Regions from separate parts of the Homo sapiens genome. Here all the other regions are linked to region 1. The links come from fine-mapping of genetic effects on gene expression. A gene starts in region 1. Each other region holds a variant in brackets. All regions are shown on one strand. Distances are between the middles of the regions.

Region 1 (2,758 bases):
CCTTAAGGCATAGCTAGTGTAAACTGACTCAAAGCACGTCCAGGAATGCACCTACTGATAAGATATTGAGGCAAGCTGCACCAGCAGCTCCTGGGGACGCGCTCGGTGGATGGCAAGCAAAACCCCTGCATTTATCTCTTTGTGATAGTTTAAGCCCGTGCAATTGGAACTGTTTATATTTTGTAACTGCATTTGTAACCAATTAATTTTTCAACTTTTTGCCAGTTCTGCTTCTGTAAAAATTGCTTCAGCTAAAATCCCCCCTCCCCTATTTAGACCACGGTATAAAAACAAAACTAGCCCCTTCCTCAGGGCCGAGAAAATTTTGGGCGCTAGCTGCCTCTCGGTTGCCGGCTAATAAGGACTCTTTAATTTGTCTCAAAGTGTGGCGTTTCTCTGTAACTCGCTTGGTCACAATAGAAGCTGCTCCTAAAAGCAATGTAGACCCTTACAAAGAGACCAGCCCACCTAAATCCCTCCCTTGTTTGAACTCTAACAGTCCTAATATTTTAGACTGAGTAGTAGAACATATATGAACAATACAGTTCATTCCTGTGGCTTAGTCTAGCCTCCCCAGCGGGGTCACTCGTGGGATGCAAAAACCAGATTTGGTTACATATACAAATATACCTGGCACAGATGTGGGCGAGGAATAATCAATTTATGCCTGACGGTGGATTCTGGGCCTCGGGAAGATGCCGTTAGCGGTACCCACAGGAGGGAACTGGAACAGGCAAGAGTAGCGGGACAGGGCCGGGAATGGGGCACGCCGAGACCAAGAAGCCGACCGAGAGCAAGAAGGCCCAGTCATGCGCACCCGGCGCCTACATCCTCCTGCGGTCCCCCAGGCCTCTCCCCATAGGCATATGAGCTCTGCTCCACTCCTCGCTTGCCGGTGGACGCAGGCGCCGCGGCCGCCAGCTCTGTGAACGCAGCGGGGTCTCACCTCCAGGCTACCCCCAACCTCCCGCTCGGTCGGGGGCCCCTCCACGGCCGCTATCACTGGGTCGCGGCTCCTAGCGCCACCATCTTGGACCCCGCGCCTGGGCCAGGCGAGAACTTCCGGTGCGCTCCCCGGGACTGCGGTCCCCCAGTCCGCGCCCCGCCCAGCCGTCCCCCGTCGGCTCCAGCCAATCCGCGCGCGCTCCCCTGGCCGTCTCCCACCGGATCAGGTGTCTCCTCTGCGCAGACTCCTCCACGACGCCAGTCGGCGCTGGCGTAGCTCGGCTCAGCCCGGCGGAGTCTGACTTCCGGAGGGCCAGCGGCGCGCTGGCTGGTTACCAAGGTTACCGCCGAGAGGCCGCGTCCTCAGCTGGTCCTAGACATGCGTGGCGTCGGGGCTGTGGCACGGTCGGGTCCGGGGTGAGTGACCCCTTCAAGTAACTACGTTTTTGTTCTGCCCTTTTGTTTTGTTTTTGAGATGGAGTCTCGCTCTTTCGCCCAGGCCGGAGTGCAATGGCGCGATCTCGGCTCACTGCAGCCTCCATCTCCCAGGTTCAAGCGATTCTCCTGCCTCGGCCTCCCCAGTAGTTGGGATTACAGGCGCCCACCACCACGCCCTGCTAATTTTTGTATTTTTAGTAGAGACGGGGTTTCGCCATGTTGGCCAGGCTAGTCTCGAACTCCTGTTCTGCCTGTTCTGTTTTCATCTTTTGTTATTGTTCCCTGCATGCATTTGTGGTCTCATTCATTGATGACTTCTATTTGCAATGCCCGGTCAAAGGCTAGGCGATACAGATCCCAACAAGGACAGCTTAATGTTTAAAAGTGTAAGTTCCGAAGTGAGAAAGTCAGACACTCAGAATCCTTGCCCCACCACTTAGGGGCTATGTGACTTTGAACAAGTTACCTATTAATAGCTTCTTCGCGCCTCCGTTGCTTCATTTGTAAAGTGAGGTAAATAATAGGACCGACCTCACTGACATATGTATGTGAAGTTTGCATGTGGCGAAGGCCAGATACATATTAGTTATTACTATGGAGATGATGTTGGTTCGCGTAGCGTAGGATCGTGGTAAGGGTTATATATGTATGTAAAGATGTAAGATGTCCAACCCCAAGCCTTTCCGAAGCAAAACTGTCAGTGCACTAGTCACTTTGGCTTCTCATATCTCTCTGTCCCAAACTTTGGGTTGCACGAATTATGCACGTTTCACTCTTGAATTTGTAAATGCAGCTACTACCAACTATTCCTTAATTTGCACAACTACATTTGAGATAGTATTTCATTGACTGTGTTACATTTTCATTGAAATACTGAGCCATGTCTCAAATAGACTTCAATTATAGTTGCTTTTATAGTTCCTTTTGCTTTACCTCTCTTAATAAGAGTGCACTAATAGAAGTTACTCTTTGGAATTTAGAAATGGGTTTTTAAGGCAGGGCACGGTGGCTCACACCTGTAATCCCAGCACTTTGGGAGGCCTAGGAGGCCGCATCACTTGAGCTCAGGAGTTCAAGACCAGCCTGGCCAGCATGGTGAAACCCCCGTCTCTACTAAAAATGCAAAACAATTAACTGGCATGATGGCAGGCGCCTGTAGTTCCAGCTACTCGGGAGGCTGAGGCAGGAAAATAGCTTGAACCCGGGAGGTGGAGGTTGCAGTGAGCCGAGATGGAACCACTTCACTCCAGCCTGGGCAACAGAGCAAGACACTGTCTCAAAAAAATAAAAAAAAAAATAGACTGTTCCGTGTCCTCTGCTCCTAGAGGCCCAGCCTCTGTGGCCCTGTGACCTGCAAGTATTGAGAGATCCACAG
Region 2 (2,758 bases), 41 kb after region 1:
AAGACATTTTCAGAGCAGCGCCGTGTTATGTTCTGTGTGCAGTTGTTTGCGCTGATGCGTTACAAGCCCCTCTGGTGGTCCCCCGCTGAGTCTTTGGTAAAGTCTGCTGCATCTGCCAATTCTTTTGTGAGCAGATTTGTTCTAGGGGTGTGGGGGACTAAGAAAGGGGTGGAATATAAACAGTGCAGTGTAAACAGTGCAGTATAAACAGTGCAGTATAAACAGTATAAACAGTGCAAACAGTGCAGTGTAAACAGCGCAGTGTAAACAGTTTTACCCACAGAGGCTGCAGGCCCATTGCTGACCATGGAAAAAGAGGTGGGCTCCTCGGGAGTCCACAGAAGTCCTGGGGAGGGCTTTGGACTTCGGCAGGCCTGGAATGAGGGTTCGAACTAATCTCAGTCTAGATCTCGAGGGTCTGAGAGGCTGTAGAGAACATTTAGGCCGGTTGGCATGAGCAGTTCTTGCCCCAGTTCACCTCTAATTCCCCGACTGTTGCTGTTCATGCTAAGTGAGGCCTTGTTCCCACTCGTTCTTCTTCTTTTTTTTTTTTTGAGATGGCGTCTTGCTCTGTCACCCAGGCTAGACTCCACTGGTGCAATCTCAGCTCACTGCAACCTCTACTTCCTGGTTCAAGCTATTCTCCTGTGTCAGCCTCCTGAGTAGCTGGGATTACCGACACGCACCACCATACCCGGCTAATTTTTGTGTATTTTTAGTAGAGATGGGGTTTTGCCATGTTGGCCTGGCTGGTCTCAAACTCCTGACCTCAAGTGATCCACCTGCCTCGGCCTCCCAAAGTGCTGGGATTACAGGCGTGAGCCACTGAGCCTCGCTCCACTTGTCCTTCTCACTGATGTCAGCACCAGAAATGGCCATGTGGATAGTCACTGGCAACTTAAAACCCAAGTGTGCATGGGGAAGTGCACGGCAGGGTCATTAAAAGGAGTCCAGCCTCTCTTCTTCCCTTCTCTATACTTTCACTTCTGGAAAAGACCGGAAACCTTGCCTCATTCCTCTTTCTCCCATGGCCCCATCCCCACCCCGCTTCAGCCCATCAGCCTCCAAATGTAGTCCAAGTCCTCATCTCTGTACCTGGACCATTGCATTTTCGCTGGCCCCTAGCCCCCACTGGGCTCCCCACTGGCTGCCAAATACCAGTGTGACCCTGTCCCTTCCTTGCTTTAAGCCTCTCAGTAGTTTGTTTGTTTGTTTTTGAGATGGAGTCTTGCTCTGTCACCAGGCTGGAGTGCAGTGACATAATCTTGGCTCACTGCAACCTCCACCTCCCGGGCTCAAACGATTCTCCTGCCTCAGCTTCCCGAGTAGCTGGGGCTATAGGCGCCCACCACCATGCCCAGCTAATTTTTGTATTTGTAGTAGAGACAGGGTTTCACCATGTTGGCCAGGCTGGTCTTGATCTCTTGACCTTGTGATCTGCCCACCTTGGCCTCCCAAAGTGCTGGGATTAGAGGCGTGAGCCACCATGCCCCGCCTGCCTCTCAGTAGTTATTTACCACTGAAGCAGAGTGAAGCCTGTGCTCCACATTGCTTCATGGCCAAGACCTCAGGGACAA[G/A]TGGACACACCAGGCAGTGGGAGTGGATATGGCAAAGCCAAACCCAGATCTCTTCTCAAAATAATTTTCCAGAGGGCAAAAGCAGATGGCTACACCGAGAACTCACGCCAGCCCAACACACTTTGATCTCGAGGCCTCTGGAAGGGAAGGTGCCTAATGAACTACTGAAAGCCAGAGATGCAATGACAAAGGTACCAAGACTGGAGGTGATCCAGGTCTTTCATCCAAGAGCCCCAAGACGTAGCCTAAATTCATGCTACGGTAATCCCAGCACTTTGGGAGGCCGAGGCGGGCGGATCACCTGAGGTCAGGAGTTCGAGAGCAGCCTGGCCAACATGGTGAAACTCCGTCTCTACTAAAAATACAGAAATTAGCCAGGTGTGGTGGCGGGTGCCTGTAATCCCAGCTACTCAGGAGGCTGAGGCAGGAGAATCGCTTGAACCCGGGAGGCGGTGGTTGCAGTGAGCCGAGATCACGTCACTGCACTCCAGCCTGGGCGACAAGAGCGAAACTCCATCTCAAAATAAAATAAAAATAAATAAATTGACACAGTCAGTGCCTCGCTCCCACCCCCACCTCCAGCATAGCACCATGACAGTCTTCTCACATAACAAGTCCCAAAACACACCATCGGCATCCAGAAAGTGAGAGTAACTCGTTACAGTTGAGACCTCTCACTCCCGGTCATTATCTCATTTCAATCCAAGAGGTAGACTTCTTCATCGCCCCTGACATACACATGAGGAAAAGGCCCAGAGAGGTGAAGTGATGCCTCAGGTCACTCAGCCAGTTACCAGTAGAGCAGATCCTTCAATGCAAGTTTTTCTCCAACCCTACACAGCAGTCGTACCAGGGCCCCAGGCTGCAATCCCCTGGCCCAGTGCTGATCGGTGGCTCCCAGGGACACGCCCTGATGCCAGCGCTGGCAGATGTCTGCTGTGAAGAGAGCAGGAAACTGTCCCTTGGAAAGCTGAGATGCTTACCTGAACTGTGAAAGTATCCATATGTGAGCAGCTAAGGAGACAGCAGTGGCTGGAGTGCTGCAGCTCAGGCACAGCTGGTGAGAGGCATTCCTCACTCACAGGCCTTCACCCACTGCTAGAGACAGTGAGCCCCATCCTGACCACTTCCCCTTTCTAGTCAGCCCACGGGGCAGAGACCCTGGCGTCATCTCTAGGCAA
Region 3 (2,758 bases), 63 kb after region 1:
AGCCTCCTGAGTAGCTAGGTTTACAGACGCATGCCACCACGCCCGGCTAATTTTTTGCATTTTCAGTAGAGACGGGGTTTCACCATGTTAGCCAGGATGGCCTCGATCTCCTGACCTTGTGATCCACTCGCCTCAGCCTCCCAAAGTGCTGGGATTACAGGCACGAGCCACCTCGCCTGGCCATGGGTGCGGTTTATTTCATGTCAATCATAACTCAATAAAGCTGTCAAAAAAAAAAAAAAGAAAGAAAGGTGAGCCTGGGGTTGGGAAGGGTGAGTGTCAGTCAGAACATGGAGAACTCAGAAGCCAGACGGAGGGGTGTAGACGATCCCCCGGTGATGGGCCAGCACCCGAGCATTTCAGAAAGGAGTGGGTTGTGGGAAGCCAACACTGTCAGCAGGATCTGGAATGGATTGGATGCCAAAGAAAGGAGTGTGGGCAGGAGCTCCTTGCAAGGTACCTACTATAGTGGTGGGGGTGGATTCTAGAAATAAAAGGGGGTCATTTGGAAATGAAGGCGAGGTTAGAAAAAGAAAAGGAGGGAGAAGCAACTGGATCCATGACAATTTAGGGCCCGTCCCCCAGCTCCCAAAGCAGTCATTTGATAAACCAAATCGAGGGCAGAGAAGGCTCTTGGAAGCTTGAAAAAAAATTCCTGCTATGTCTGCTTCTTTCTGGTTTCTACCCTGTGTACAGGGTCCTGTGACCACAGCTCTTTCTGCTGACCGCAGCTGGGTATTCCTGCCTATGGAAAAAAACCACTCACTCGGCCCCGCTCACTCAGCAAAGGGGCCCGTGCTCCTGCTCCTGCACCCAACTGGCCTTCAGGACTGCAAGAGGCCCCAAGGGGCCAGCTCTTCCTGCTGCTCTCAGGGGCACCACCGTTACCCTGCCCAAGCCAAGAACTGTTTTCTCTCTCAAGTCAAGTTCCTCCTTTGGTCTGCCTTCTATCTCTCTAGGTGTAATGTAAGCCATGAATATTCATCCTGCCAAAGAGCCTGGAGTCAGTACCTGACTTTTCTGCTCACTTCCTCTCTACCTTGGTCCTACCTCAGTTTACTCCCAAAATGCTGCACCTACCACTATGCCCTGATTAACAGATGACCCCATCAGGTGACAGGAATCTAAATATAACTGTGGCTGGGTGGCTGACTTCCTGTGTGTGCTCAAGGCAAGAGACTAGGAA[T/C]TGTGCCTTCACCAAGCCTGTAGATCCAGATCCTTGCTGCCTGAGACAGCCCTCAGGGTACAAGCTTGCAATCTGATGACAGAGAGAAGGGGAAGGGAGAAGAGGGGTGTGTGGTAGGAGACAGCTTGGTCCAGAGAAAGATGGGTGCCAAAACCAAGGCCAGAGGCAAAGTTTAGAGCCTTGAAAAATGACTAACATCAGTAAGGGATGGGTTCCTGTAAACTTTATTCTACCTAATGAGGAATCTGCGAGCCTTTGATTGACATCATAATAGTAAACTTGTGCCTGAATACCATGCCCAAGCCAACTGTTTCATTCTTTCTTCCATTTATTTATTCATCCAGCAAATATTCATTGAAACCCTGGTGGCTCCAGACTGACCAACATGGTGAAACCCCGTCTCTACTGAAAATACAAAAATTAGCTGGGTGTGGTGGCGCATGCCTGTAATCCCAGCTACTCAGGAGGCTGAGGCAGGGGAATCGCTTGAACCGGGGAGGTGGAGGTTGCAGTGAGCTGAGATTGTGCCACTGCACCCCAGCCTGGGGGACAGAGCCAGACTCTGTCTCAAAAAAAAAAAAAAAGAAACTCTGGTGGCAGACCTACATCCTGCCTTCAAGGAGTGGGCCCCAAAAAATAAAACTAAAAATTACGAACAATATGAAAAGGGCTCCAAAGGGGTCTTCAGCCCAGATCTGGCAGAGGTTGGGTCAGGGAAGGTTTGTTAGAAAAGATTCCATTCACACTCAAGTCCCAAAGGGTTTGTAGGAATAAGCTGAGAGAGGTGTGCCAGGGTCGGACAGATGGGCTGGGAAGACTCTGAGGGAGCAGTAAGCAGTCTGGATATTGGGCACTTAGGGTGAAATGGCATTGGGGGCCGGGATGAGGTGAGGCAAGGCTGGGCATACTGGCAAGTTCCTAATCTTGAATGCCTTCATTCACTCACTAACTCACCGAACAAATATTGATTGATTGATTGATTGATTGAGACAAAGTCTCACCCTGTTACCCAGGCTGGAGTGCAATGGCGTGATCTCAGCTCACTGCAGCCCCCGCCTCCTGGGATCAAATGATTCTCCTGCCTCAGCCTTCTGAGTAGCTGGGATTACAGGTGCCTGCCACCACGCCTAGCTAATTTTTGCATTTTTAGTAGAGATGGGGTTTCACCATGTTGACCAGGTTGGTCTCGAACTCTTGACCTCACGTGATCTGCCCACCTCGGCCTCCCAAAGTGCTGGGATTACAGGTGTGAGCCACCGCTCCCGGCCTGAACAAATATTTATTAAGGACCTACTCTGGGTCACACATTGTGCTGGGATCAAGAATAGTTTTGGCACTTTGGGAGGCCAAGGCAGGAGGATTGCTTGAGCCTAGGATTTTGAGACCTTGTCTCTATTTTTTTTTTAATTAGCTGAGTGTGGTGGCATGCACCTGTAGTCCCAGCTGCTCAGGAGGCTAAGGTGGGAGGATCACTTGAGCCCAGGAGTTGGAGGCTGCAGTGAACTATGATCAAGTTGCTGCACTCCAGCCTGGGCAACAGAGTGAGACCCTATCTCAAAAAATAAAAAATGT

The links. PIP is the estimated chance that this variant, and not a neighbour inherited with it, causes the effect. A credible set is the group of variants that fine-mapping cannot tell apart.
Region 2: its variant is the best candidate, but not a certain one, in a credible set for the expression of ZNF594-DT in whole blood (GTEx, PIP 0.75).
Region 3: its variant is the best candidate, but not a certain one, in a credible set for the expression of ZNF594-DT in blood mononuclear cells (TOPMed, PIP 0.81).

Annotation. Positions count from the first base shown.
Region 1 is chr17:5,190,802-5,193,559 of GRCh38, forward strand. ZNF594-DT (ZNF594 divergent transcript) reads left to right here and starts at 1,206. Exons shown (of 6, transcript NR_152840.1): 1 at 1,206-1,362. It overlaps ZNF594 (zinc finger protein 594), which reads right to left and starts at 1,067. Exons shown (of 2, transcript NM_032530.2): 1 at 947-1,067. RefSeq lists a silencer at 1,002-1,201.
Region 2 is chr17:5,232,175-5,234,932 of GRCh38, forward strand. SCIMP (SLP adaptor and CSK interacting membrane protein) reads right to left here and starts at 2,686. Exons shown (of 5, transcript NM_207103.3): 1 at 2,561-2,686. The coding sequence starts at 2,581. The region is part of intron 5 of ZNF594-DT (ZNF594 divergent transcript); the gene reads left to right. The variant G/A (reference allele first, on the strand shown) is at 1,578.
Region 3 is chr17:5,254,233-5,256,990 of GRCh38, forward strand. No RefSeq gene overlaps it. Among named protein-coding and RNA genes, the nearest start is that of SCIMP, 21 kb to the left of the region's middle. RefSeq lists an enhancer at 286-791. The variant T/C (reference allele first, on the strand shown) is at 1,187.